2 separate regions of the Homo sapiens genome follow, and region 1 is linked to region 2. The links come from fine-mapping of genetic effects on gene expression. A gene starts in region 2. The other region holds a variant in brackets. All regions are shown on one strand. Distances are between the middles of the regions. Region 1 overlaps TGFB1 (transforming growth factor beta 1). Region 2 holds the start of AXL (AXL receptor tyrosine kinase).

What was found.
Region 1: its variant is fine-mapped to the expression of AXL in whole blood (INTERVAL, PIP above 0.99).

What each region holds. Positions count from the first base shown.
Region 1 is chr19:41,330,899-41,333,796 of GRCh38, reverse strand. It overlaps TGFB1 (transforming growth factor beta 1), which reads left to right. Exons shown (of 7, transcript NM_000660.7): 6 at 1,516-1,669; 7 at 2,587-2,898. The coding sequence ends at 2,745. Among named protein-coding and RNA genes, the nearest start is that of TGFB1, 22 kb to the left of the region's middle. The variant C/T (reference allele first, on the strand shown) is at 1,496.
Region 2 is chr19:41,217,430-41,220,327 of GRCh38, reverse strand. It overlaps AXL (AXL receptor tyrosine kinase), which reads right to left and starts at 1,105. Exons shown (of 20, transcript NM_021913.5): 1 at 851-1,105. The coding sequence starts at 935. RefSeq lists a silencer at 1,392-1,531 and an enhancer at 1,140-1,964.

The DNA.
Region 1 (2,898 bases), 110 kb before region 2:
AGAAAGGTATCTCTGAGGAGGTGATGTTCAGTCATGTAACTGATATTTACTAGTACCTACTGCATTCCAGACACTGCTTTAGGAGTTAAGGGTCCCTGAGTGAAGGACATTTGAGCTAAGGTTTAAATGAAGTGAAGGGGCCAGGTGTGGTGGCTCATGCCAGTAATCCCAATGCTTTGGGAGGCCGAGGCGTGCGGATCGTTTGAGCCCAAGTTCGACACCAGCCTCAGCAACATAGTGAGACCGTGTCTCTAAAAAGAATAACAAATTAAAAAGAATAAATAGGCCAGATGCAGTGGCTCAGGTCTGTAATACCAGCACTTTGGGAGGCTGAGGTGGGCGGATCACAAGGTCAGGAGTTCGAGACCAGCCTGGCCAACATGGTGAAACCCTGTCTCTACTAAAAAGACAAAAAAATTAGCCGGGCATGGTGGCACACGCCTGTAATCCCAGCTACTCGGAAGGCTGAGGCAGGAGAATCGCTTGAACCTGGGAGGCGGAGGTTGCAGTGAGCCGAGATCATGCCACTGCACTCCAGCCTGGCAGACAGAGTGAGACTCTGTCTCAAAAAAAAAAAAAAAAAAAAATAGAAAAAAAAAGAAGAAATGAAGTGAAGGAACAAGCTGGAGTGGGTATCTGTGGGACTAGCAAGGCAGGCAGAGGGAACAGCAGATGCAGGAGCCCCGAAATAAGACTGTCTGAGGAACAGACAGGACGCCAGTGTGGCTGGAGTGGAGTAGGCGTGAGAGAGGGAGTTGAGATCAGCCAGATTTGATAGCACCTTGTGGCTCACGGTGAGGACTTGGGCATTTGCCGTGAGATGGAGCCAGGTTCAGAGCAGAGGAGTGACAAGACAATTTATAGCATGCCCATGGAGGGCAGAGATTTCTGTCTCTTTTTTAAAAAAATTGAAAAAAAATTTTGTAGAGACAGGGTCTTGCACTTTGTTGTCCAGGCTGGCATGCAGTGGTGTTATCATAGTTCACTGCAACCTCGAACTCCTCGACTCCAGCGATCCTCCCACTTCATCCTCCCAAAGTGCTGGGATTAAAGGTGTGAGCCACCATGCCTAGCCTATTTCTATCTGTTTCATTTGTCCTCAGTCCACAGTAGATCCCAGCCCAGCACACAGTAGTAGTTCAATAAACATTTGTTGCACAAATAGAGCAGATCAGTTTACATGGAGCTGTGTTATTTTGTATGTTCCAGGGTGTGGCATGCCATGATTTATTTAGCCCCCCCGTGGATGGTCATCTGGCTTCTTACAGGCTTGTCTTAAGCATTGCGTGAAATTAATTATTACATTGCTCTTAGCACTGGAGGAAGTGCTTAATCTGTGTTAGTGATTATCATGACTATTTGTGTTGTTATTAACACAGTGGGTGCAAGGGAGACCCAGATGGAGATAGGGCTGGGGGGGCAACCTAGGGTGACACACGCACCTGGGGAGGAGGGGCATGTGGCTTCTATGGTGGTAGCCCCTCCCTGCCCCTGA[C/T]GCGTCTCTCCTGCCTGCAGCTCCACGGAGAAGAACTGCTGCGTGCGGCAGCTGTACATTGACTTCCGCAAGGACCTCGGCTGGAAGTGGATCCACGAGCCCAAGGGCTACCATGCCAACTTCTGCCTCGGGCCCTGCCCCTACATTTGGAGCCTGGACACGCAGTACAGCAAGGTACGTCTGGCCCACCGGGCTACGAGATGCGCTTGGGGGGAGCCAGGACGGAGGAAGAGGAGAGAGAAAGAGAAGTAAAGTCAGAGAGGTGAGTTGGCAGGATGGGGAGAAAGAGAGGGATGGGGTGGGGAGGGGAATGAATAAAGAGATGGGGAGAGAGGCAGGAAGCTAGAGAGGGGCTCTGAGCAGGGGCCAGAGGGAGATGAGCTATGAAGACCCACAGAGTGAAGTAACAGAGGGATGGGGGTGAAGGGGAGAAGAGAGACAGGGAGATGGAAGGAAAAACGCAGAAATGGAGAGACAAAATGAGAGAGACAGATACAGACACAGAGTTAGGCCAAGGAGAGACAAAGACAGATACACAACAAGGCAAGAGGCGAAGATGAGGAGGGACAGAGACTGAGAAAGAAAATCAGGCGGGCGCGGCGGCTCACGATGGTAATACCAACACTTTGGGACGCTGAAGCAGGAGGATCGCTTGAGCCCAGGAGTTCGAGAGTAGCCCAGGCAGCAGACTGAGATCCCATCTCTACCAAAAAAAAAAAAAAAAAAAAAAAAAAAGCTAGGAGTGGTGGCGCTTGCCTGTGGTTGGAGCTACTCCGGAGGCTGAGGCGGGAGGATGGCTTGCGCTCAGGAGGTTGAGGCTGCAGCGAGCCATGATCGTGCCACTATACTCCAGCCTGGGTGGCAGAGCGAGACCCAGTCTCAAAACAAAAAGAAAATCAGACAGGTGGGGAGAGACAGAATAAGATAGGATGTTAGAAGATAAGAGAGACCGAATTGGAGATGGGAAGAGGGGATGCGGGGAGAGACGAAGTGAGAGAGGCTGGCGCGGTAGCGGGTGGGGGATGGGGCAGTGGAGGGCCGTTTTCCTCCCTCCACGAGCCCTGAGCCCTGACCCCGCCCGCCGCCCGCAGGTCCTGGCCCTGTACAACCAGCATAACCCGGGCGCCTCGGCGGCGCCGTGCTGCGTGCCGCAGGCGCTGGAGCCGCTGCCCATCGTGTACTACGTGGGCCGCAAGCCCAAGGTGGAGCAGCTGTCCAACATGATCGTGCGCTCCTGCAAGTGCAGCTGAGGTCCCGCCCCGCCCCGCCCCGCCCCGGCAGGCCCGGCCCCACCCCGCCCCGCCCCCGCTGCCTTGCCCATGGGGGCTGTATTTAAGGACACCCGTGCCCCAAGCCCACCTGGGGCCCCATTAAAGATGGAGAGAGGACTGCGGATCTCTGTG
Region 2 (2,898 bases):
AGACTTAACAGGTCGCGCTGGTGCTGGTGGATGGAGGGGAAGAATCAGGGGTTGGGGGAGAGAGATAAGGGTGGTGGTGGGGGGAGATAAGGGTGGTGGCGGAGGGAGAAGCCAGAGAAAGGCAGGGGAGATGAGACAGAGAGGAGCACAGATACAAGGCAAGACAGAAAAAATGAAGAAACAGCCCTCAAGAGAGAAGAAAAGGTGGGGGCGGAGGGGGGATACAGTCACAGAGGGAGGCTGAGAAGAGAGAGAGAGACTCAGAGAGCAGGGAGAGATAAAGGCAGAGACTGTGAAAGAGAGAGAAACAGAGACCCACAGAGATAGCAGAGCTGGAGGCAGAGACAGAGAGACAAAGTGAGAGCCTCCTCCCCAGAGATGGAGTGGACTGGTGGGGTAGGGACAAGTGGCGGGTCAGGGGGGTGGTGTTGGCAGGGAGAAGCGTTTTCCCCCAGGGCTCCAGAGCCCTCCTCATCCCACTGCCTGACTCGGTGCCCCTTCGGAAAGATTTCTTCCTTCCTGGCGACCCTCAGCTCAGCCCCTCTCCCCATGGCCCCCTTCTCAGGTCCAGCCCCCACCCCTGCCCTCAGCTTCTCCTTGTCTGTCTGTCTCTCCGGGTCCTCTCTTCTGTCCCCCCTGCCCTTCAGTTCCTCTCTCAGTCTTTCTCTCCCTCTGCCGCACTTGGTGTCTCTGAGTCTGTGTCTCCCTCCCTTGAAGTCCCTTTTCTGTGGTCCCAAGGAAACTCCCTAAGCCAGCCCAGGCCCCCCACACCTGCCATCATCCCCCACCTCCTACCCCTGCCCCAGCCCCTCCGAGGGGATCCCTGCCCCAAGGAGCCCCCATCACTCACCCCTGGGGGCCATGCACGCCCAGCCGCACAGCGCCAAGCACCAGGCCAGCGGGACCCTGCCCATCCTGGGGCACCGCCACGCCATGGGTGCCAAACTTTCCTCAGAAGTTGTTGGGCTCCCAGCGGGGGAGGGGGCAGGGCCGGGCTGTCCCCGGCCCTCCCCCCAGCTCCAGGCTCCCCGGATTTGGCACTGCCTGCCTGGCACAGCGGCAGGGGAGGCCCTTGCCACCGGCTCTGCCCAGCAGCCGCCTTCTCAGCACCCCTGCCTCCTTCCCTCACTCCCAGACTTGGGCAACCCTTTCTCCGCCCCTGGCTCCCCCTTTGCCTCCGCCCACCAGGGCCAGAGCCCAGGGGCCACCTGGACAATCAGGGGTTAACTCAAGAGAGGAGAGGATCAGCTCTTTCTTAAAGGGGCCAGGGAGGGAGCTGAGGAGGGGGAAGGGGACCCTGGTGGCTGTGCCCCCTGTCCTGAGCCAGTGAGGCCGTGTCTCTCTATCCGGGCTCTGGGCGCTGTCCCTCTGGGCTCTGTGTCTGGTAAACATTCCTCCAGAACTCCACTCCCCTCTCAGCTCAGGCCGTGACGCCCCTCTCCCCGCCTCCACCCCCAGCCCAGCCCCAGCCAGGCCTCCTTGGCCCTTCATTCCCCCTCACTCTCTCGGCTCCTCGGACAAGGACACACACACACACACACACACGCACGCACGCACGCACGCACACACACTCTTAGACGTCACTGACACACACAGGCTAGGACAAGCAGAGACACGCAGAGGGACCCAGACGGGCAGGGGCATGCTACTGGCCCACAGACACACTCAGACAAGCCAGGCCAGGAGCTCGATTCCTGGAGAAACCTCAGAGACAGGAGGACACGGCTGGGTGGGCATCCATGGGGGACACTTACTTGGGGAGACACAGATCTTCAGACACGCCAAAACCTGCATGGACGCCTAAATGGGACACCAAATACAGGCGACATGAAGGGGACCCAAGTTGGAATCCCAGTGCTACCACTAACTGTGGGCTACAGGCAAGTGACTGGCCTCCTGAGCCTCAGTTTGTCCATCTGTAAAATGGGAATAAGAATAGTTGTTGGCCGGGCACAGTAACTCACTCCTGTAATCCCAGCACTTTGGGAGGCCAAGGTGGGAGGATCGCTTGAGCCCAGGAGTTCGAGACCAGACTGGTCAATGCACTGAGACCCCCATCTCTACAAGAAGTTTAAAAATTAAAACTTAACCAGGTATCATGGCGTGTGCCTGTGGTCCCAGCTACTAGGGAGGCTGGAGTGAGAGGAACGCTTGAGTCCAAGAGATCGAGGCTGCAGTGAGCCCTGATCATTCCACTGCTCTCTCCTTCTGGTGGGACTGTGTGTCCTGGTTATTGCAGATCTGCTGCCTGCGTATCGGCTCTGCTGCACTTCCATTCCTCGGCCCTGTGTGTTTGGCACGTGGAGGGCTCTGCATGCCTGGATGTCTGTGAGGAGGAGGCTGGGCGTCTATCCCTCTGCTCTTGGCCACCTGTGTTTGGGTACTGGTATACCTACGGTGCATCATAAAGTCCTATCTGTTTGGCCTCCTGATGTCTCTTCTACCTGCCCCTTCCCAGCACCCCCGTCTGATCCTGCCTTCTCCTGCCTCTACTGTCACTCCTTTCTCCCATTTAGCAACCAGAGGACTGTTTCTGAAAGTCAAATCCTACCCTGTCCCTTCTCTGCTTGCCCATGGCCTCCTGCTGCCCTCAGGGCAAGCTCCCAGCTCCTTGTCACTGGCCACTTAGGGCCCTTCACCGTTGTCTCCCTGGGCTGTGTCTTTTTTTTTTTTTTTTTTTTTGAGACCCAGTCTTGCTTTGTTGCCCAGGCTGGAGTGCAATGGCTCGATCTCGGCTCACTGCAACCTCCATCTCCTGGGTTCAAGTGATCCTCCCACCTCAGCTTCCTGAGTTGCTGGGATTACAGGTGTGCACCACCATGCCAGGTTAATTTTTGTATTTTTGGTAGAGACGGGGTTTCACCATGTTGGCCAGGCTGGTCTGGAACTCCTGAACTC